Regions from separate parts of the Homo sapiens genome. Here regions 2 and 3 are each linked to region 1. The links come from fine-mapping of genetic effects on gene expression. A gene starts in region 1. Each other region holds a variant in brackets. All regions are shown on one strand. Distances are from middle to middle.

What was found. PIP is the estimated chance that this variant, and not a neighbour inherited with it, causes the effect.
Region 2: its variant is the best candidate, but not a certain one, in a credible set for the expression of SLC38A4-AS1 in whole blood (INTERVAL, PIP 0.86).
Region 3: its variant is the best candidate, but not a certain one, in a credible set for the expression of SLC38A4-AS1 in lymphoblastoid cells (GEUVADIS, PIP 0.84).

The regions. Positions count from the first base shown.
Region 1 is chr12:46,379,933-46,388,118 of GRCh38, reverse strand. It overlaps SLC38A4-AS1 (SLC38A4 antisense RNA 1), which reads right to left and starts at 4,443. Exons shown (of 4, transcript NR_125380.1): 1 at 4,424-4,443; 2 at 147-372. RefSeq lists enhancers at 1,377-1,878, 4,572-5,079 and silencers at 4,438-4,507, 4,658-5,017.
Region 2 is chr12:46,478,724-46,486,909 of GRCh38, reverse strand. All of the region lies in intron 3 of SLC38A4-AS1 (SLC38A4 antisense RNA 1), which reads right to left. All of the region lies in intron 1 of LOC124902923 (a long non-coding RNA gene), which reads left to right. Among named protein-coding and RNA genes, the nearest start is that of SLC38A4-AS1, 99 kb to the right of the region's middle. The variant T/C (reference allele first, on the strand shown) is at 3,264.
Region 3 is chr12:46,411,861-46,420,046 of GRCh38, reverse strand. All of the region lies in intron 2 of SLC38A4-AS1 (SLC38A4 antisense RNA 1), which reads right to left. Among named protein-coding and RNA genes, the nearest start is that of SLC38A4-AS1, 32 kb to the right of the region's middle. The variant G/AAG (reference allele first, on the strand shown) is at 4,925.

The sequences.
Region 1 (8,186 bases):
CACACAGTTGTTCTGTGCCTCAGTTGGGGATAATAACGATAATAGTACTGACCCCATAGGGTCATCATAAGGCTTAAATGAACTGATATATGCACCATGCTTAGAAGTGTTGTGAGCCATCATTCTCTTTGGCGCTATTCACCTACCTCCATTCCCCGTGGTTTGCTTGGTTTGGTTTGATTTGGTCTGGTCTTACTACTGCTGCCTCTCCGTTTGACTGGCAAAGTGTGACTGGCACTGCTTCACCAGGGGCTAAAGGCATAGCTGACGAGGCTCCTTCATAACCACAGCCACAAGTTCGCACTCCAGTGCTGCAGCACCCAGCTGTACTTTGAATTTGCCCTTCAGAGAGGCTCCATCAGCAAAAGTCAACTGGAAAATCAAAGCAAGCAATGCTAAGTTTTTTAAAAACACGCTATGTCAGATGAATTAGAATGTAAAGTAGAAACTCTAGCCTTCGGAATAAATCAATGAGAGGAAGGAAGTAGAGACAAAATGCAAGCAATTACATTCATTCCTTAAAAGAAAAGGTGGTATCTGCCCAAGCTCCCTCCAATTTGAACTATGTTTTCACAGCCTTCCATCTCCTTTTTAAAATCTCTCTTCAACATCCCAGAGCAGCCTCCTCCCACCTGGCCAAGAACCCTCAGGCCATCAACTTGCTTAAAAAAATATGATGGCCCAGATTCTGATCACGTGCACATGACTGACGGCCATTGGATCTTCCCAGGGAGTACTGAAGTTTTATGAGTATTATGATCATAATCCCCTGCATTTATATTAGTTTTCTTTCTAATCTATATTTTCACATAAATTTTTCTTTAATTCTTGGCACTCAGCATGCTGTTATTCCTATTTAACGGTTTAAAAAACTGAGGCTCAGAGAAGCTAGCAAACTTGTCCTAAGTCCCAAAACTTTGAATCAACGGAACTGAAACTGGAGTATAAATGAAATGGGAAAATTTTTAACGACTGAAGGACTGGGGGAAATGCACACAGCAGGGAGGGGCAGGCATGCTGCGGGGAGGCGGAACTAAGCTATTTTTGTCAGGGGGTTACTTAAGCAAATCTGCTCTACTGTGGAAATAACCTCAACTAACTCCCCCTGAGTTTTACACAGCCTCTTTATTGCCTCCACAGCTCAAAACTATACATTCTCTAATTCTAAGACTTATTTTTATTATTTTTAAATACTAATTTGTTCATACAATGGATATCCAGGTGGTACTGTTCTTAAGAGGATTTTAAAGAAGGTACACCCAGTATGTTTTATATTTAACCTATGGCTGCTTCTCAAGAGTGTTTGTAAATTGAGAACTGTCTGTATTGCATGTGTGATGTCATTAAATATATATTTGGTCTGTCCAAAACTATCTGGCATTTGTCCTTTACCAACATTACTGAGTATTTTAGTTTCTCAATCATGCGAGCTTAAAAAGCACAGCCAAATCTAATGAATGTCAAACTTGTGTAGTGACTCAAGTTGATTTCAGTATGTTTAAACAGAAAAAAAAATAGAACTCACAAAGGATCAACTGGAATGAGTATTCACTTTAAAGGAATGCAAAAAGGAATCCTTTTGAACCATTCATTCTCCTGAATATGTTTAAATGTGCATTAATTTAGGTACAACTGCTAAGGAAAACTGTTTATCATATACGAAATATTTCCTCATTAAAAGTAATGGCAAAAACCGCAATTACTTTTGCACCAACCTAACAGCAGACACTTTGAATATGAGTGTAATGTTCTTTGTATGTAACAATGCTAATGCTAAGCTATCTCAAATATCTTCTTTTACCTGTTTTTTTTCCTTCGGTAACTTATCAGCCCTGTCCAATAACAGTTCCTACAATAATGGAACTATCTGTCAGTGCTGTCCATTTTTGAATGAATTAATAAAATTAATTTTATTTAAGTAGTCACATGTGGCTACTGAGCAATTAAAATGCCCTATTGAAGAACTTAATTGTCAATTTTATTAATTTTAATTCATTCAAATAGCCATGTGGCCAGTGGTTGTGTATTGGACAGAGCAGTTATAAGATCTCCTTCAGCCAAAAAAAAAAAAAAAAAAAAAAAACCTATGATTTTATCATTCTATCATTGTGAGGCCAGAATTAAGGCTGTAGTTATTAAACCTCTGATTATTAATTGGATGCTGAAATACAGTTAGCTAACTGAACACACAATTTTAAAGAGGCTGTTTTTGTTCTTAATAAACATCAAAAAAACTATTATGTGCAAAATAACATGTGGGTAAGTAGGATATACACAGACCAAGATTGAACAGACATTTCCTGACGGGGACATTGCTCTCCCAGTTTCTGCTAAATTCCAATTCAGTACATCCTAACAAGACATGGCTGATCAATTGTGTAAGCTCATGCTTTTAACAAGTATTGCTTAGCTCAATAACTCCCATAGCTCTAGGACAAACAACTGTCCTGAGCCCTGGGGACACGCTGTTGCACTCTGTTGAGCCTGACAGAATGCCTGCTCTTCCAGGCACTTACTCTCCTGGGAAGCACAGCCAGGTGAACAGGCCACGAGAATACACCGTGGTCAGTACCACTACAGGGGCAGACCTTGGGTGCCACACGAACACACAAAAGGAGCTTCTAACCCAGTCTTGGCTGGACAGGGAAGGTTTCAAGTGCAGAAAAGAAGGTTCCAGAAGGAAAAAACCAGTAGTATCTTGCTATCAAATCTATCCATTATTTAGGTTTCTTTGGGAAATTTCCTTTTCATTTGGCATTATGTCATCGTCCTTTCAAGGGTATTCACTTTTTGAATACATTTCAATCGATATATATTTATCGAACCCTGAAGACTAAAAAGCCTCATCGTCATTCTCCTGGAGGATTCACCATTTGCTCGGGGCTAAAGGTGTATGAAGACAAACCTTTCTCCTGAGAAAAAAAATGAGTTCTTAGGTCAAATATTTCAATAATCTACCCTTTAAGAAAAATGTAACACTGCCTTGGAATGCATGATTTCTTCATAAGACTTCCTTTTTACAATTGTGTGTGGCTTTCTACCCAAACTAACTTTAAACATCCCTCCACAATAAAATTCAGGAAGGCCACTTTAATAAAACGAGGGGGAAAATCCCACCAAAATGTAAACTTAATATTTCAACACAATTAAATTTATTAATAAAGAATTTCTATTGCATAGTGAACAAAGCATTGGATTTACCTGACAGTTTGGGGTCAAATTCCAGTTCCTCCTCTTAGAGAAGGAATGGCCTTGGGCGAGTTATCTAACTTCTCCAAGCATCAGTTTCCTCATTTGTAAAAGGTCAATAATGGGGTAAGAATAGCCCCTACCTCAGAGTTGATGAGAGAAATGAATATGCACACATTTACAAAGACCTTAAAGTAGTGCGTACCCTAAGCCTTATATGAAGATTATTATTCTTTCTAATTACAATAATTCTAATTGCAGAAATCTATGCGAAAACAATACACAGTTCTGGCCAAAAGAAGTTAAAACAAATGTGAAAAATAAGCGACATCCAGAAACTTCAGCAGCTCCCTTCTGTCCTATGCCTCAAGGTACCAGAGAGGGAAAAAGACCCCCAGGAGAGGCTGTGAGGAAACCTGAACTGCAAACCCACCACGATGTCTTCCTGGGAAAGGCAAGTTGGTAAAGAAAGATGTGAACTCTATTTCAGGGTAGTATGTTTTTTTCATTTGCTTCCAAGACTTTGATGGAATGACTTGAGAGGAAAAGTTCACAATTACTAGAAAGAACCTAAAAGGACATGAGAGATGAAACCGTTGCAGTATTTTTGAAATAAATGTTTTCCTGCAAGAGCAGAGTCATGGGCGGGGTGTCTGTGTAATATCTACTCAACACAGCCGAAGGGTAAGAGGAAATCTTGGTAAGCCGACTTCCAAGTCTTAATGGGGAACCATACGGAACCAACTGCACGCCAAATCCCACGCTCACCGAAGCTTCAGGGATTTTCTTGTGGGTCTGGGGGTTTAATCTGACAGCTCCTAGAGCCTTCAGGACTTCCCGGGCACAGATAATGGGCCGCGACTGCACCCCCGCGTCCCTCCTTGGGGCGCAGGCTTTCCACAGCTACAGTTCTCCACGTCAGCAGCCACGTACACAAGCGCCGGCAGCTGCCAACAGGGCGTGCCCGCTTCCAACCCTGCACTCTCCCAAGCAGGACATCCCTGCACCGCCCGGCGCGTTCGCGAAAACTCCGCGGGGCCTCGAGGCGTCCCGGGATTAGCCCTGACGCTGTAGGGCTCTCTAGGTTTTCCACGACGCAGGGGAGCGTAACTGGAGCGCACCCGACAGCCTCTCAGCTTGCCCAGGCTCGACTGGATGGGGCTTTGCTGGACCCCCGACCCGACCCCCACACACCCGGGCGGCGGGGCCCAGGTACCTGCCAACGCCTCCGCACCTCATCGTCCCCTCTGCTTCCCCTCCTCCCTCTCCCCGAACCCTTCCCCCCTCCTCCCCGCCTCCTCCCCGCCTCCTCTTCGCCTCCTCCTCCACCTTCTCCTCCCCCCGACCCCTGCTCCCACTCTTGGCTCCAAGTCCGCGCGCGGGCTGGGGAGGCGGTGCCGAATGAATCACCGTCACGTGGGTCGCGGGCGCGCAGAGGCGGGCTGCGCCCGGGCGGCTCTGGCGCTCGGAGCGTTAGTGGAAAATTTCCGGAGATCTACTGGGGCTGCGCGCCGCAGGCCCCGCCCGCCGCCTCCCCGCTCCTTCGTATCCCCACCTCCTTTTCCCCCTCCCTCCTCCTTTTCTCTCTTCCCCCGCCGTTTTCCGGTCGCAGCCGGGCCCCGACATTGCGGAGGTTCCTTTCTCTCCGGGGAGCGGCGCTGCGCACGCCCCGCCCGCTGCAGCGCCCCAGGCTGGCGCCGCCAGACCCCTTTGCCCTGGGGCCGCCAGCCCTCGCTTCCTTCGCGCGGCTCCAAGCCGCCACGCGGCCTTGCCCCCGACCTTGCGTGTAGCCTGCTGGTATCCTGAGAGGCCAGGAGCGGCGTCCTGGCGCCTCCGCCTTCGCCTCTGGGGCGCCGCACCCCCGCCACCTCCGTTCCGCATTGAGTGAGACCCCCCACATCTCCGGGCGGAATGTGAGACAAAGGGAGAAGACGGTGACGATGGGCGTCTTGTCTTCTCATTTAGAATTACTGCACCGCCGTTTAAACAAAGCACATGCAAGGCCAATTGTGTTTTACCCACTCCCACTTAACCACTGAGAAAATAAGCTATTTTCTCTATCCCATAACATTCTCCACTTCGTTTTCCCAACCACGAACAAAATTTATTCCTGAGACAGCAACTTTGAGGATTTCGTTGACCTCATCCATGTAGAAGTGACAAATGGTTACACAACAAAATTGTTTCACTCAAAGGGGGTTGTTGTGTACGTGGTTCACCTCAATAAAACACACATTTAACTGTTTCAGCAACTGTTTAGCCCTGGACTGTCGCCCGGGTTAATGTCGCTGAATGGGGTGGGGGGTTGAAAAGTGGCATTAGCGCCACGTGTCCCAAGACGAAGTGACATGGAACCGGAGGCAGGTGCCTTAATCAGTCACGAAGTGCCAACGATGTCAGTCAAAACAGTTGGGAGTTTTATTGAGTAAAGATCTCAGAACCAAGCCCATATATTAAATGGTTCCCATCTAAGAACCAGAATTGCAGGTGTGTTAATTTTAATAAATCGTTATTTCAGTATCTTAGCCCTGGGCAAAGAAAGATCCGGAAACTGACTGAAGGCCAGGAATGTAGGTTCATCGTGGCCTACGAGTGCTTTGGGTAGCACACCTTCTTTCAGTCACTGTCATTTCTCTTTAGACAAGAAGACCCCTAACAAGTATTAAAATAAAGGTATTTTTTAATGATCCTGTTTTGGAAAATTGTAAGGATCTGAAATTTTTAATTTTTTAAAACAATGGAGCACTTCAATAAAACTTCTATTTTCTTTACTAAGAATATACACAGCTTGTTTTTTAGCTTAATTCTTGATTGTTGCTGTGACCTTACCACATTCTGAATAACCTTAAGCATGTATATGAGAATCGTATCTGTGATTTTGCTTTCACATTTCACTTTCCAAGACACTTATTGGTAATTAGCAGGTGTCAGTTTACCTAGCCAAAGAACCATTGTCTATAAATCCTTCATCTCTCTGCCATTGTTTTCTTTCACATTCATTGGCATATACTACACCTAGCAAAATAGACCATTCCAGGGTCAAATGAAAAGGCCAACAGGTAAGTATCACAAGAAGGTCATTAGTCAAGCCGTTATTTCCCCTCTTTTATTTGGGAAGGAGATGGGAGAAACAGAGTTCTGATACTAGGTCCCTGGAAAGTTCTTCAGTCTTGACAGAATTGGGTATGTTTGTACTAAAGTATCTGTAAAACTAAATTTTTTTAAATTTTTTGTTGTTGTTTTGAGACGGAGTGTTGCTCTTGTCGCCCAGGCTGCGGTGCAATGACGCGATCTTGGCTCACTGCAACCTCCGCCTCCCAGGTTCAAGCAATTCTCCTGCCTTGGCCTCCCAAATAGCTGCGATTACAGGCGCCTGCCAGCACACCCAGCTAATTTTTGTATTTTTACTAGAGACGGGGTTTCACCATGTTGGCCAGGCTGGTCTCAAACTCCTGACCTCAGGTGATCCGCCTGCCTCGACCTCCCAAAGTGCTGGGATTACAGACATGAGCCATCGCGCCCAGCCATATTTCTAAATTTTTTTAAGACTGAGTTTCTGTGGGCCCCTTAATTTTCTTTTTCTTGCTGAAAAATGAGGTATGCATTTACAAAATACTGATGCTTGCAAATATATGGATTTACAATATAATATATTTTTTAGGCATTACTATGTTTTCCAGTCCTGGCCAGTGGGATCTGAGACAACAATAACAGCATTTCCAGGAAATGTTATCTCTCAAAATAAAATTAACTCACAAAATGACGCTCCTTTCTTTTGCAATGGATGTGGTCCTGTCTGCCTATGACCCCTAAAACCACTGCAGCCAACATGTGACCATGATGGGAGAGATCCCCAGCATGTTGAAGAAAGCAAAGTGAAAATATAATGAGCTCTTTGTCTTGGAGGGAGGTATCAGGGCCAAGAATTAACCCCAGAACTGTGCTCTCTACATACTTCTTATTATGTGAGATAGTGTCATTATTTAAGCCACTTTCAATTGCATATTGTGTTTATTGCCATAAAATGTTTTCTGGCTGGGCACAGTGGCTCATGCCTATAATCCCAGCACTTTGAGAAGCTGAGGTGGTGGATTGCTTGAGCCCAGGAGTTTGAGATCAGCCTGGGCAACTTGGCTGAAACCTGTCTCTACAAAAAATTAGCCTAGCCAGACGTGGTGGCCTGTGCCTATAGTCCCAGCTACCCAGGAGACTGAGGTGGGAGAATCACCTGAACCTGGGCTCTCTGATCACACTGCTGCATTCCAGCCTGGGCGACAGAGTGAGACCCTGTCTCAAAGTAAAATAAAAATAAATAAATAAATAAATAAATAAATAAATAAATAAATAAAATAAAATAATAAAATAAAAATATTCTTGCTGCTGACAACTTCTCTGTGGTAGCCAGCCTCCAAAATGGCCCCCAGTGATGCTTACCTCCTGGTATGCACTCCCTTGTGTAGTCCCCTTCTATGTTGAATCAGGGCTTGCCTTTGTGACTGATAGAATATGGTAGAAATGATAAAGTGTGACTTCCAAGGCTAGTTCATAAAGGCATTGCAGCTTCTGCCTTGCTCTTTCTTGCTAACTTGCTCTGGGATAAGCCAGCTGCCATGTCATGAAGACATTCAGTCAGGGTTGTGCAGACACCTTCTTGGAGAGGAAGCAACCAGCCAGCACCAACTTACCAACATGTGAATGACCTTGGAAGATCTTCCAGCCCCAGTCATGCCATCAGATGACTAGAGCCCTCTCACAGCTGACTGCAACCTCATTAAAGACTTAAAGCCAGAACACCCAACAGAGCTGCTCTTGAATTCCTGATTCATAGACACTTCGAGAGATAATAAATTATTGTTGCTTTCAGACACTAAGTCTTGGAATAATTTGTTACATAGCAATTGATATCTAATAGAGTATCTGTCAACACCAGAAAAACATGCCAAAGTCAGCAAAGCACTCCCAGAGTCCGTACTGTTGCTTTAGACTTGAGAGCTATC
Region 2 (8,186 bases), 99 kb before region 1:
CTTTTGCCCCCTTCTAAGCTCTGCACTGCAGCTAGAGTGACCTTTTCAAAACTCAACTCTGATCATGGTCACTCCTGCTTAGATCCCTGCAGTGACTTCCTCTTGGGCAGGGCCACAGTCTGACTTGACTGTTCAGGCAATATGTGGCCTGGCTCTGCCCACCTCCCTGCCTCACCCCACATTCTCCCCCACCCACATGCCCTGGCTAGTGTGTCTTCTCTGTGCTTCCTCACATAATTCCAGTTCTCTTCCACCTCTGGGCTCTGCACATGCTGTTCCACCTGCCTGGTACTTCCTTCCCACCATCCTTTCCACCTGGTTAACTTCTACTTCAGGGAGAATAGAAGACAGCATTATATCATGGTGATTAGGACCCCAGGCTTTGGAATCAAACTGAGTTCCAAAACCCACTCCTCTACTCACCCACTGGGGGGTCCTAAACAAGTTATATACTGTATCTAAGCCTAAGTTTCTCACCTGTATGTTAACATGAGTCCATACTTCACAGAGATTATTCATAGAAAGCACTAAAATCTGAGACTGGCACATAATGCCCACTTCGTAAATGTCTGCAATTTTTTGTTAATCTTTTTTCCAGCCATGGGTCAATCATCACTTCATGAAGAAGCCTCTGCCCAGGTCACCACCCCTTCCTCTGCACCCGCAGTCTCCTTTTTTGCACCCAACACAGATTTACTTCTGCACTTACGTATGAGATTTTTAGAATACACCTGTCTTCTCCACCAGAAGGCTCATTGACAGCAGGATTCGCCTGCTTTGCTCGTGCAGAGAGCCCAGCCTCTAGCACAATACCTGACACAGAGTAGACACTCTACCAGTACTTCCTCAATGAAGGAATGAATGAATGAGCAAACCACAGTAGCCCAGCTGTGGTTAGAGTGGAAGTAAGCATATCCAGCTTGTCCTGTAAGCAACAGCCCAGTATTTGGTCATTTGGCCATTGCGTCCTTGCATTAGTGGGGGCCTGATGAGCAGTTTGTCATCTCATCTATGAATGCCAGTAAATCATTATCAGCAATATTTATTTTTTAAAAACTAGGCGAGCCTGAGGTAAAATTCATATTTTTGCAGGCCTCGTTGGCCAAGGACATTCGGTCTTCCCTGGCTGAGGCTGATGAAGATGATGACAGCAGAGATGATAATGTTGTAATTAACAAAGCTTATGAATATTAGCACATTAAACTCTAGAACACTTTGGTCTAATAAATGGGACATACAGAACAGAAGCTCCTGAAGGTCATCTCATATGCCAAGTGAGAAATAGGGAGAGAGCCCTGTCACTTGCTCTCTTTGGCGCATCTTAATTTCTGTGTTGTAGATACATACACACACGCCTCACCAGGTCCCTGTGCCTGGATGTGACCTTCCATGGTCTTCTGACTATTAACTGTGACATATGAAGTTCATGAGTCAGACCCCATAGTCTGCATCCCTGCTTATCACTACGTGACCTTCCCTCCCCTCAGGTCTCTTCCAAAGAAGACCACTGAGTTGGCTCACACTTTATTTTAGGGAATGTTTTCTGACTACTTCTCTTGGTGTCTGTTAATGGGCAAATATCAAATCCATGGGAAATTCCTACACAGTTCTCAACAAATATGAGGAAAAGCAAACGAAAGATCCCTATAACTCTTTATACATCGCCTTTACAGCATGTAAACCCTTTGATTAACATCTCCTGGCCGTGTGCAGTGGCTCACACCTGTAATCACAGCACTTTGAAAGGCTGAGGTGGGAGGATCACTTGAGCCCAGGAGTTTGAGACCAGCTTGAGCAACATAGTGAGACCAATATCAATCGAGAAAAATGACGAGACAAGTCTCAATCATTTTAGGAGGTTTATTTGCCACAGTTAAGGATGTATGCCCGGGAGACAGGTCTATGCCTTTCTCTGAAGATGATTCTGAGGGCTCCAAATTTAAAGGGGAAAGGGCAGGATATTCAGAAGTACACAATTTTCATGTAAGAGCGGGGGTAGGGAAAAATAGTCGTTCATGCCTTTGTCCGGCTCAGTGACTCTGCATTTTTTTATATAAGGTGATATAGACAAATGGGGCAGAGGAAAAATGCAGGGTATCTGTATTTTACATAAGATAACATAGACAAAATGGGGCAGGAGAACAATCAGATATGCCTTTGTGTCTGGTGGGCAGGGAGATGACTGCACCTGTAAGGATAAGCTATAAATTTACATTGCAATGGCGAAATTGTGAAATTTTAACAGAAACACCTTAAAAGATCTTGAAGCTCACTAGGAATTTCCTTGTGGGCAAAATATGGCAGAGATGTATAGCTTTTCATCTTGTAGCCATCTTATTTAGGAAGCAAAAAGGTGGAAGCAGGTTGCATCATCCAGTTCTCGGCCCAGCTTTTCCCTTTGGCTTAATGAGTTTAGGGTCCCAAGATTTCATTTCCTTTCACACCCCCATCTCTACAAAAAAAAATAAAAATAAAAATTAGCCAGGCCTGTACTAATAGCTAAGAGTACTAGCACGCACTTGCAGTCCTAGCTATTCAGGAGGCTGAGGTGGGAGGGTCCCTGGAGCCCAGGAGTTCAAAGCTGCAGTGAGCCATGATCACACCACTGCACTCCACCCTGGGTGAAAGAGCATGACCCTGTCTCTTAAAAAAAAAGAAAAAACCCTCCCTTTGCCTCTAATGACAAAACGGTCTTTCCCTTGGTGGAATAGCTTGGGAGCTTTGGGAAGACTGAATGCACAGTAGGTTCTGCATTGTCATTAGAATCTATGCTAAAGTTATCAATGGCCTTTATTTTATTGAGTACCTAGTAAATGTAGCAAACCAAAGGCCCGAGATGCATTTACTTTACTTGCCATTAAATTAGGCAGTAGCTTCAATGACATAAGGGTAAAATCTAATGAGCTTTGTACTCTTGTTAGAACAGGTAAGGAGAATTGAGGTCTCAGCATTCACAGATGATGTTATGGCCCTTTGTGTCCTAGGACTGTTTATCTTAGGAGCTCTGTTTGACCCCTGGCAGACTGTTGTCTTTAGCTGAAACAGTAAAGTGTGATTCACCACAATATGGTAATGTTGAGAAATCCAAGGAAAACCTTTCATTTCCAGAACTTAGTGACCCTTTTTGAAGAAATCTATTATTGTCTAGCAATTTTATTACAAAAGCACATTAGGGTTTAAAAATGTGAAGTGGGTGTGGAAAAAAAAGGCTTATGTAACATTAGACGCAAAAAAAAGATTATAAAGTCTTGTCTATGCTAAGA[T/C]TGTAACTATGTGAAAATTAGATAACATATTGACAGTAACTGGAAGGAAACATTAAAACAGCTGATTTTAGAATGGCAAGATAAGAGACTTTTTTCTCTTTTCTTTTTTTCTTGGTTGATTTCTGTTATTGTTGTTATAGTATTATTTGTACAATACAAGATTGTCAGCTAAACATGTATATTTTGCTTAAAATTATAATTCACTTATACTACAGACATTAAAAAATTATCCTCCACCTTAAAATCAAATATAGAAAATACGGAGCTTTGCTACCTTATCTTTAAAAACTATTATTTATTCTGTGAAATAAAAAAGGGAACAACTGCTAGCACAGTTCTTAAAACTAGCAGAAAACAATTTATCTCCTTCAGCATCACTGAAAACAGACTAAAAATTCTTATTTCTTTAATGAGAAATGGTAGAACAAAATAACTTATTATTAAATGTTCTTTCTCATTATCTAGTAGGCCAGAGAACATCTCTGAAAAAAAAACCACCATACATTTGAGAAATCTTTACTGGGGTTAAGCCAGAAAAGACTTCACCTTATATTTGCCTGGTGACTACCAGTGCTTAAAGACAGAGAATGCTGGCTGGTTTCTAACAACCAGAATTAAATCCCTAAATTATAAGTCTGAAAATTCAACTCAGAAAATAACCACACAGTTCCCCTGTTTCTTAGCCCTCTATTCAGTACTTAAACCCACAGGGACCTGTTGCCTATAAACAAAACTGAATATAGAATTAGGATAAATCTCACACGCAATGGGCATTTCCTGCTGTCCAGAAATCTCCATTTACTTTTTAAATAAAAGGACTCCTATCCATAAGAATTGGCTGCCTTTTCTTTTTGGTGTGTCATTAAAACTCAGGTCTTTCTTTGTATACCTTCCATGCAATTCAATCCAACAAAAATGCATCCAGTTGAGTGGCTTCCCAGACCTGTTAGGTCAACAAGCTCTACCAGGAGGCTATGGAAACACCTATTGGCCCTTGAACACTGTGTCTCATCCATTGGTTAGCATAGCTCATGCTGGACATCTAAACAGTTCAATCAGGAATTGCTGGACTGCGTGTTCCTAACCTTCCTCTTTGCATGACTGGTTATATGTGGTGAGAGTTATCAGTGGCAAAAAAAAGTAAGTCAAAGCTAAAATAATAAGCAATCTTCAGAGCAACAAATGAACTACCCATTATTAGTAAATTGACTGCCATGCTAAAAAGAGTGAATTCCATTCTAAGAGCAATGGGGACCAATGGGGAATGAATTTGAAAAGGAAGAGGATAATGTAACTTGGGTTTAGGATAAGAACTAAACCCAAAGGCAAGATGAATATAGATTACAGAGGACAGAAATAGGAATTGGGGAACTAATAAATTTCCCCAATTGGGTCAGTTGGAATTGGAATTGTTGAACTGACCCAAACCAAGGCAATGAGGGTAAGAATAGAAATGGGATAGATAATACTTTAAATGGATAAAAGGATGCAACAAATTTGATGCAGATTAATGAAGAAAAGCACAGTGTGAAGACAGTTAAGAAGACATTAGTGTTCCTAGCCTGGATTACTGAGTCTGAGTGATGCCATTAATATAATTGAGGAACTAAGGGGAAAAAATTGGTTTAGGGAAGAAGACAATGAGTTTGATTTTGGATATAATAGGTTGAAAGTGTCTTAGGGACATCCATGGGGAATGGCCCAGCAGACAATTAAGATATGCCAGGGCTAGAAAAGAACATTTAACAGTACAGACTTTGAAATTAAATCCTGGTTCTGCCACTTAGATTAAGTGGCCTTGTATGAGATATTTAAACTTCTGAACCTTCTATTTCTTTATCTAAAAAAATGAAGATAATTACATTGTAGAATTTTGTGAGCATTAAATAAGAAACGTGTGGAAAGCACTTACAATGTCTGACACATAATTAAGTACTAAAAATAAAAAATGATCTTCCATTGAACCACTGCAATAATCTCTTCCTATTCTGTTTCATACTTTGCCTCCTTCAGTCCACCTCTGCATGGCAATCGAAGAGATCTTGTCATAACAAAGATGAACTCCCCATCACTTCTCTGCTTAAAAATCCTCTAAGGTATCCCTCTGAACCATGGTCTGTAAGATCTGGCATTTCTATTCTTTGGCCCTTGACCATGCTAGTCTCATTCTACCCTCAGGGCCTTTGCCCTTGCTGTTCTCTCTGTCTGAAATGGTCTCCTCTAGATTTTTCAAGGTTGGCTTTTTTCATCCTTTTGCTGTTAGCTCATATGATACCAACTAATGGAAGCTTTTTGGTGATTGTTTCTTCATCTATCCCAGGTACCTTCTATCCTGTTATTCTGTTTTTATTTTATCTATAGAACATTACTATTTGAAATGAAAAATTTAAATATGTTTACGTGATGTTTTCTGTTCCCTCTGTTCAATAAGAATATCAGTTCCTTAACAGCTTGTCTGTCTTATTTCCTGCTCTATCCTCAGTACCTGGCATAGAGTAGTTTCTCCATAGTCATTGAATGAATGAATGAATGAATGCAAATATATGGAAGAATTGTGGACCCTTAAATATAAAGTGTGCATTTCACTTCCAGTAAGATGAAATAGTCTGATTCAGAAACATAAACTCATGATGTTGAGCTACTGTAATCTGGATGTCCCAATGAGGTAAGCCAATTAACCTCTCTGGCCCCCATTGTCCTTCTCACTGTAAAAGAATGAACAATTGCCACTCTCTTGCCCAAGACGGATGCAGTGAAGAATACATGAGATGAAATCTGGCATATGTCTGGAGTTTTACAAGAGGAAGACATTCTATTTAACTGTTCAACCCATCATAAAGATGACTGGCACAGGCCAAAATGGCATAATCAAAATCCCTAAAGTCACATCAAATCACTAGACTATGAATCCCCAAAATGTCCTGAAACAATAGTCTATCAGAATTTCCACTGAGCTACAATGATAATGTAAATCCCAGGATCACAATTCACTGTGGTAGTTCCTGAAATATTATGAAAAACAAGGCCACTCCCCAAATGGATTAGTAATCACAAAGAGAATGCAAAATGCCTCCTGACAAAGCATGATCAACACCTCAATTTCCAGACTCCTCGTGTCCCTCTCTCTGTGGACACCATCAATCAATGTCCCTTTGGTACACAGGAGCCCACTGCTGGAGCATTCGGTCAGCACCTACTAGGAGGCTTACTCTCAGAAAAGCTTTTTGACATACATCCAAACAAACTGAAGAAAATATTGAAGTCTTGAGCTCCATTTCAGGCCCAGCAAATGGAAGCTGGCCTTATAGGTGAACAGATAACGGCTCAGCTCAGGATGACTCTGACTTAAGCAACATCCCTCTCTGGTTACCCACCTTCTGTGAAGGCTCTATGAGAACAAAGAGATCCAGAAAGTTCATCATACCTGGTATAGAAATTAAAAGAATGAGTGTTTCACTTAGGTAGCCCCAGGTTATTTTGATTTTGTTGTTTAGCAGTTACATAACTTTGGGCAAGTTATTCTAAACTTTCAGGGGCTTCAGATTTTAATTTGTAATGTGAGGATAATACTGCCGGTCTTTAATTGGTTGTTTTAAGGATGAAAGAGATAGAATAAAATGTTAAGCATGCTCAACGAACACCAACTATTCATATGAACCAATAGCTAATAATAATCAATTATCATTAATACCTGAATCCAAGTTATTTCTCTTTAATTCATCCAGCAAATATTAATTGGGCATCTGCTTGATGACAGGATTTGTGTTAGAAGTTGGGGATGCACAAATGAACATGGTAAACTGATTCCTATCTTTGTGCATATTTGTAAATAGGTAATTATGGTATGGCATAATAAATGTTACCATGGGAAGAGTTCAGAGTGCACTGAGAGCAACCGGATGGAAAATCAAACATGGCCCAGGGAGTCAGGAAGGCTTCTTGGAAGAAGTGATGCTTAAGCTACGGATCAAGGAAGTCATCCAAAAGGTTGGGAGGATGGAGTAAAGAAAATCCTATGCAGAAGAAATACTATTTGCAGATAACTGAAGAATAGAGAGCAAGGCATTCTCAAGTTGCAGAAAATAGGTTTGCGTATGGCACAAAGTCTGGTAAAAAGGGGTTTTGCAAGTTCTTGTTAAAAAAGTTTTTACTTTAATCTGAGAACTACCTGAAACATGGTTAGATTCAAGCCAAAGAGTGGTTTGGATGTATTTATGTTTTAGAATAACTCTGGCTGCAGCGTAAAAAAAAATAGACTAAGCAAAGAAACCACTATGAGTCTATGAATTAAACAGATATCCTACAAGGATGTAGACCAGTGGACATATTCTACAGATATCTAGAAGGGACAATGACAATGACAGGACTTTGCAATTGATAGGAAGGTAGAATGAGGGAGAGAAAGGAGTGGAAAATGAACATCAGGTTAAATGGTAGTGCCACTCACTGAAATAGGAAGCACAGAAGAGGAACAACCTTTGAATGTTCAATACAGGATAAGCTGAGTTTGAAATGCCCACAGAGCTCTCAGGTGGAATATTCAGCAATAAGGTGATTAATCAGGCCCAATGATATGGTTCAGCTGTGTCCTCACCCAAACCCCATCTTGAATTATAATTCCCCTAATCCCCATGTGTCATGGGAGGGACTTGGTGGGAGGTAATTGAATCATGGGGGCAGTTACCCCCATGCTGCTGTTCTCATGATAGTGAGTGAGTTTGCACAAGATCTGATGGTTTTATAAGGGGCTTTTCCCTCTTTGCTCAGCACTTTTTTTTTTTTTAGACAGAGTCTCACTCTGTCACCCAGGCTGAAGAGTGCAGTGGCATGATCTCTGATCACTGCAACCTCCAGCTTCCGGATTCAAGTGATTCTCCTGCCTCAGCCACCCGAGTAGCTGGGATTACAGGTACCCACCACCAT
Region 3 (8,186 bases), 32 kb before region 1:
CGTTAATGGTCTGTTTAGGATTTCTATTTCTTCTTGTTTCCATCTTGGGAGGTTGTGTGTTTCCAGGAATTTCTCCATTTCCTCTAGATTTTCTAGTTTATGTGCATAGAGATGTTCATAGTGTCTCCAAGGATCTTTTGTATTTCTATGGAATCAGTGATGATGTCACCTTTCTCATTTCTAATTGTGCTTATTTGGATCTTCTCTCTTTTTTGAGTCTAGTTAGCAGTCTATCAATCTTGTTTAACCTTTCAAAAAACCAATTTTTCATTTCATTGATCCTTTGTACTTTTTCTTGGGTTTCAATTTTGTTTAGTTCTGTTCTAGTTTTAGTTATTTCTTTTCTTCTGCTAAGCTTTGGGATTAGTTTGCTCTTGTTTTTCTAGTTCCTTTAGATGCAAGTTTAGGTTGTTAATTGAGATCTTTGTATCTTCTTGATGTAATCATTTAGTGTTGTAAACTTTCCTCTTACCACTGCTTTTGCCATATGCCAGAGGTTTTGGTATGTTGTGTCTATTTTCATTGTCTCAAAGAATTTTTTTATTTCTGCTTTAACTTCATTGAAGTCATTCAGGAGCAAGTTATTTAATTTCCATGTATTTGTGTAGTTTTGAGTGTTCCTCTTGGTATTGATTTCTATTTTTATTCCACTGAGATCTAAGAAGATACTTGGCTTGATTTTCAGGTTTTTAAAAAAATTTATTGAGACTTGCTTTATGACCAAGCATGTGGTCAATCTTAGAGTATGTTCTATCTGCAGATTAGAAGAATGCATTCTGTGGTTGTTGGGTAGCGTGTTCTGTAGATGTATATATCAGGTCCAATTGGTCAAGTGTTGAATTTAAGTCCAGAATTTGTTAGTTTTCTGCCCCAATGAGTGTCTAATGCTGTCGGTGGGGTGTTGAAGTCCACCACTACTATTATGTGGCTGTCAAAGTCTTTTCTTAGGTCTAGAAGTAATTGTTTTATAAATCTGGGTGCTCCAATGTTGGGTGCCTATTTATTTAGAGTACTTAAGTCTTCTTGTTGAATTCAAGCCTTTATCACTATGTAATGCCCTTCTTTGTCCTTCTTTACTGTTGTTGGTTTAAAGTCTATTCTATCTGATACAAGAAGAGCTCCTCTTTTCTTTCCATTTGTGTGATAGATCCTTCTCCATCCCTTTACTTTGAGACTCTGGGCATCATTATATGTCAAATGGGTCTCTTAAAAACACTAGAAAGGTGCATCTTTTTTTTTTTTAATCCAATTTGCCACTCTATATATTTTAAATAGAGTATTTATGCCATTTATGTTCAAGGTTAATATTGATAGGTGAGGTTTTGTTCCTGTCACACTGGTGTTAACTAGTTGCTCTGTAATCACAATTGTGTAGTTGCTTTATAGAATCTATGAGTTATGTGCTTGTGTCTGGTTTTGTGACAGCAAGTATTGTTCTTTTGTTTCCTTGTTTAGAATTCCTTTAAGGATCTCTCGTAGGGCCAGTCTGGTGGTGATGAATTCCCTTAGCGATTGAAGATCAAGGAAAGACTTTATTTCTCCTTGATTTATGAAGCTTAGTTTGGTGGGATATGAAATTCTTAGCTGGCATTTATTTTCTTTAAGAATGCTAAAAATGGGCCTGCAATCTCTTCTGGTTTGTAAAGTTTCTGCTGAGAAGTCCACTGTTAGTCTGATGGATTTCTCTTTACAGGTAATACGACTCTTTTGTCCAGCTGCCTTTAAGATTTTTTTCTTTTCCATGACCCTGCGTAGTCTGATAACTATGTGCCTTGGGGATGGTCATTTTATATAGTATCTTGGAGGAGTTCCATGGATTTCTTGTCTCTGCATGTTGATCTCTCTAGCAAGATTGGGGAAATTTTCCTCAATTATATCCTTGAATATGTTTTCCAAGTTGCTTACCTTCTCTTCTCAGAAATGCTAATAAGTTACAGATTTGGTTGCTTTACATAATCCCATATTTCTCAAAGCCTTTGGAGAACAGTTTTTCTTTACTTGCATGTTTTGTTTTGTTCTGTTTTGTTGTAGTGACAGGTTTGGTTGTGTTCATGTTTAACAGCTTATATCTGCTTTCGGTCAAGCAATTAGCCAGGGAGACTTTGTTAGAGAATGTGCACATAAAGAAGTTAACCTAGCCAGCCAGGTGTGGTGGCTCATGCCTGTAATCCCAGCACTTTGGGAGGCCAAGGCAGGTGGATCACCTGAGGTCAGGACCAGCCTGGCCAACATGGTGAAATCCTGTCTCTACTAAAAATAGAAAAAATTAGCCAGCTGTGGTAGTGGGCGCCTGTAATTCCAGCCACTCAGGGGCTGATGCAGGAGAACTGCTTGAACCCAGGAGGCAGAGGTTGCAGTGAGCCAAGATCACACTATTGCACTCCAGCCTGGGCAACAAGAGTGAAACTCTGTCTAAAGAAAAAAAAAGTTAACCTCATCATACAACTTAGCATCACCATTATTTAATATTGTTTAGAGATATGTGCAGATAAAATGATTGCTTAGCTGGAGAACTCAAGAGAATCAGCTGAAAAACTATTACAAATAGTGAAAGAATCCAGCATGGGGCCCAGGTAAGAAATATAATATGGAAAAATCAATACTATTCTTACATTTGAACCACAACCAGAAGACATAATAGAAGGAATCATTCTATTCACAAAGAGGGCAAAAAGATAAAAAATTCCAAGAGACAAACTTAACAGTAATTTTTTTAAAGACTGAAGCAAATTGAATTATGTTTTTCATTTTAAAGACTTGGCATCTTAGGCCCGGTGCGGTGGCTAATGCCTGTAATCCCAGCACTTTGGCAGGCCGAGGCGGGCAGATCACTTAAGGTCAGGAGTTCAAGAACAGCCTGGCCAACATGGTGAAACCCAGTCTCCACTAAAAACACAAAAATTAGCCAGGAGTGGTGGTGGATACCTGTAGTCCCAACTACTCGGGAGGCTGAGGCAGAAGAATTGCTTGAACCTGGGAAGCAGAAGTTGCAAGGAAACGAGATGGAGTCACTACACTCCAGCCTGGGTGACAGAGCAAGACTCCACCTCAAAAAAAAAAAAAAAAAAAAAGATGTTGATTCTTTCAGAGCTATTTTATAAATACTCTATTGTGAATCACATCCCCAAAATTATTAGTAGGATTTTCAAATTAAACAAGTTGATTTTAAAGTTCCTACGTAAATCTAAAAAAGCAATAAGAGCCAGGAAAAAGCATCTAGGGAAAAATAAGAAGATGAATGAGGAAGGACTGATAATACCAATTATTAAAATTGGAGAGACAGAGAAGGAACAAAGAGAGGGAGGGAAGGAGGGAAAGGAGAAAAAAAGAAACCCTACCTTTTATAACTGCTATCTAGGAAATACATTAAGTGAACTTTTTAATATAAATATATTACCTTTCCCCTCCTCTCCACCTCACTGATATACAAATACCTCGTTAACTTAACGGAATAAATGAGCAATTATAAATGGAATAAATGAACAACTAACAAGTAGCTTTTAATCTTAAATTAAGCACAATTTTAATAAAACTAGGAAATATAAAATCTACTAAAATCCTTAATATAATCCCTGGCACATAGAGGCACGCACTCAAGAAATATTTGTTGAATAAATAGTAAGTAGTAGAGATATTTGGTAAATTGTCTTTTGGAGTCCTAATGCCACTGAATGGATTTAGACATTATGCTAATATGTGGGATTTTTTTAAAGGTAATTAATTAGTATTATTTTTTAAACTCAATTTTGAAAAGCTGAAATTATAGGAATCAGGACCAAAAGTTTCAATTCAAAAGTAACGAAAAAAGGAAATAAATTTTATATTTTTAAGTAAATATAGCAAAAATATTCTAATTGTTCTCCTGTGGTCACTTGGTCATACAAAATCCCCAAAATGTATTATAAAAAGACACATCATTCATTGTAGCATTATAATTATAGCAGCAAAAGTCTAAAAAAAAACCCTAAATATCCATCAATGGAGGACAGATTCTGAACAAATCCTGGTACATTTATGCAATGGAATACCATTTAGTTATTTTAAAAAATAAAGTAGATCTCTGTGTGCTGATGTGGAAGAACCAAGATATCTTGTTAACTTTCAAAAAGCATGGAGCTGAACAAGGAGCCATGGAATGCACCTTACCAGGGGCTCTCGAGTCAGTGTGTAAGGCTAAAATTTAATATAATCCTAATGTCCCTCAAAGATCCCCCAGGGTAATGCCAGTTTGGAAGCATTACGAACACTCCCTCAGTAAATGTTGCACAGAGCTAGTGTTTCCTTTGGCACTAAAAGGCTCTTGTATTTCTTCATTTGCACACCAGATGAAGCTGGCTCGCACAGGGACCACGTTTGTGATAAATACAGTCTTTAAAAGTTAGCCTCTATCCAGCCTTAAAAATGAAGGAAATCTAACCATTTGCTACAACATGGATGAACCAGGAGGACATTATCCTAAGTGAATTAAGCCAGACACAGAAGGCCAAATACTGTATAATTCCACTTATATGAAGTATCCAGTCAAACTCATGGAAACAGAGAGCAGAAGGGTTTCTGGGGGCTGGGAGAAAGGGGAAATTGTGAGGTGCTACTCAATAGGTATAAACCTTCAGTTATATAAGACAAATGAATTCTAGAGATCTGCTGTACAACACTGTGCCTATATTGTATTGTATTGTATACTCAAAAATCTGTTAAGAGAGCAAATCTCACATTAAATGTGAGACCTACAGGCACAATGGCATATGCCTGTAGTCCCTGCTACTCAGGAGGTTGAGGCAAGAGTATAGCTTGAGCCCAGGTGTTTGAGTCCAGTGTGGGCAATATAGCAAGACCCTGTCTCTAAAAAAAAAAAAAAAAAGAAAGAAAGATTAAAAAATGTTTTTACCACAGTAAAATACACTTTAAAAAAAAAAAAAAAAAA[G/AAG]CTAGCCTCACCCCAGGCTCAGGGCTGTGCATGCTAAGAGTGAGTCCAGCTAAAGGAGCAACATGCTGGTGTGACTGTCTCCTGCTCAGTCATCAAGTAGAATGTCATGTGGATCAGCAGCATTGATTCTTTCCTGCTTTGGTTTGTTTTGTTTTATACTATTTTTGTTTTGTCACATATATGCATTACAATAATATAAGTCAATTCACCTATAGAACATCTCCACTGTAAAATTCTCCTATTTGTGTAAAATAAATAAATAAAAGAACACATATCCACAAATATACCCAGCTATACACAGATTTTTCTGGAGGTACATTCAAGAAACTGGAAATACAGGTTATTTTTGCCAAGAACAACAAGGAATCTGGAGAACTGGAGTCAGAAGACATTTTGCACTCTAATATTTTTGTATTACTTGAATTTTATCATGTATATGAATTACTTTTTTAAAAAACCTACCAGTAAAAATGCCGTGTTTAAAAATAAATAAAATCTAATGATTTAAGATATAAGTGTAGACTAAATACCTACTTACCTCCCACTAATAACAACTTACTCCATCTCTAATTCTTAACCTTTGGGGGTCTTATGGAATCTTTGGAAATTTGGTAAGAACTACAACCTTTTCCCCAGTAGAAGACATATACATACACATATAACCATGAAGTCCATAAATTTAAAATTTATAGCTGTTGTACTACAACATTTATCTGTGGGATTCTTGCCAAAAATGTTTAACCTGAATCTATTCATGAAGATATAATCTGATGAATCAAACATATGGGGCATTCTTCAATACAACCAGCATAGACTCAAAAAATTCCATGTCATAAAACAAAGGAAACTAAAAACATAAATCCAAAAAGACTAAGAGACACAACAACTAAGTACAATGTAAGAATATTGGTCAAATCATGAATCAGGGAGGGAAAAAAACTATAAAAGATATATTTGAAACAATAAGAGAAATCCAAACTCTGGATTCTGTATTAGATGATATCATGGAATTATTATTTATTTTATAAGTGTAATGATGCCGTTAAACAACTGAGGGGTGAAAAGTCATGATGTCTGCAACTTATTTTTATGGTTCAAAAAAGTATACCCAGGGATAGTGCAAATGAATGTGACTAAAGGTTAACAACTGCTGAAGCTACATAAAGGGCATATGGGTACCCACTGTACTATTTTTCTAACTTTCCTGTAAGCCTGAAATTTTCCTATATATAAAGTTGAAGGCAAAAAAAAAATGCTAAAAAAACTTCACTCTCCTATAAAACTTCACTCTCCTATAATTCTAACACAGCACCCACCACCAAATTTCCCCTCTCCCACTTACTCTTGTGGCTTTCCATCTCCTTCTTTCTTGCCAAGAGGAAATCTAGCACTTGATTTGTTTCTTCCAAAATTATTATGAAGCATAAACAATGTCTCAACTTGGACTGTCTCTTTTTTTGTGTCTCTCTTGGTTAAGCTACGAGCTTGGTGAGAGAGGTCAGGAACTACACTTTTGTCGTCTTTATAACCCCAGTGTCAGAACACAATAAGAAGAGTCAATAAACATGAGGTGAACTGAAACTTTGGACCAGTTCACTGAACTTTAGTACCTATTGTGCTATTCTTTAGCAAATTGGGTAACAGATAATATGGAAGGATTTTTTAAAATGCTGAAACTAAACCACTAAAATAAAATACTAGAGTTACTTCTTCCTTGAGTATGGAGAAAATGAGCCTTGCTTTTAAGAAGCTATGTACCACATTAGCAAAAGTCTGGAAATACAAAGCACACTCAAAATTAATAAAGTTAAGATTTTCACGCTGCCATTTGTGCAAGTCACTGGCTTTATCTGACTTCTACCTGTTAGTTTTTTTATTCTCTAATTCTATATTGACAACATTTTCTGTGATGATGGAGGTGAAGAGCCTGTCACTGGCAACATAGCACCATCCTCGTTTAGAGTAAATAAAACTATTTAAAGCAAATTGGAAACTGAATGACAGAAAGTGCCACAGATGGACCACACTGGGAACAGGAGTGGAATGCCGCGTTGTTCATCATCCCCACCATCCAAGAATGAAGTTGGCAACAAAATGCTGGCAGTAGACCAGAGTGGACCATCACTGTGTATACAAGACAATCCAAATGAATTGTACTATCCTTTGAGATTAAGAAGAAGCTCATGGACTTTCCACTAAAATAAAAATCAAATCTATCAATTGCCATTAGTGTTTCGCTTTTTAAAAAATGTTTCCCCTTAACTTGAGTCATTATTGCTCATTATTTTTTCCTCTTTCTTTTCATGTACCTTCTTTTCTCTTTGGAGATGTCTCTAGAATGGAAATACATGGAACTCATCCAATTGACACTTAAATTCTGTAACCTCTATGATACAAAGTTACTTCGTTTACCATAAAGCTTAAGCGCCCCAATGCAGACTCTTTATTAAAGTCATGATAATTCAGAAACTGAGTTGGATTTAAATAAAAGTATTGCTAAAAGCATCATGAATGGCAAAAGTCTGAGGACTTCTTTCTTTCTAGGGTGAAAGGACCAAAGGTTAACACTTTGCTGCCTACCTATAGAAAATTGCTTATTCTTTTAAAGACCAAGTATTCCTTTGTCCTGTTCTCCTTCTTGCTATTAATCCAGGAAGACATCAGAGGAGAATGAAAGAAGAAAGGTTTATGAGAACCGAGCAGTGCTCAGACAAGAACTCTACCCACTGAAGTCAACTGGGTAATTTACATTTACCTATGCAGTAGTAGGTCTACCCAGCCTTGCTCTGCATAAAATGTGTACAACTCTCCCAAACTGATGTATGACCTGTTGCATAATTACCCCTCATTACATAATTGATCTTACCTCCTGCGATTCCTTTCCCTATAACCACTATTCATTGCTCCGAGCCTGGAAGATCAGATATTCAAATTTACCAGCTCAGGCTCCATGTTCCTACCGGAACTCTTGACCTGGTTACAGGAAGGAAAAATAGTGACACACTTTTCACTGCCTAAATGTTTCAGCCCCATTTCTTTCTGATTTGAGAGCCCACTGAAATCCATTATCTTGGTTAAGCTTAAAAAAAAAAAAAAAAAAAAAAAAGAAGAAGATACCTGTGGCTGGGGTAATAGCGGGGTATACTGGCTCAAGATGGGTTGTACCAGAAATAATTGGTGATGCAAAATATATTCCCTATCCTAGCCTACCCTTTTCTATCTTCAGTTTCTTTCTGTATTTTTCTGCTCTTTTACCCTTTTT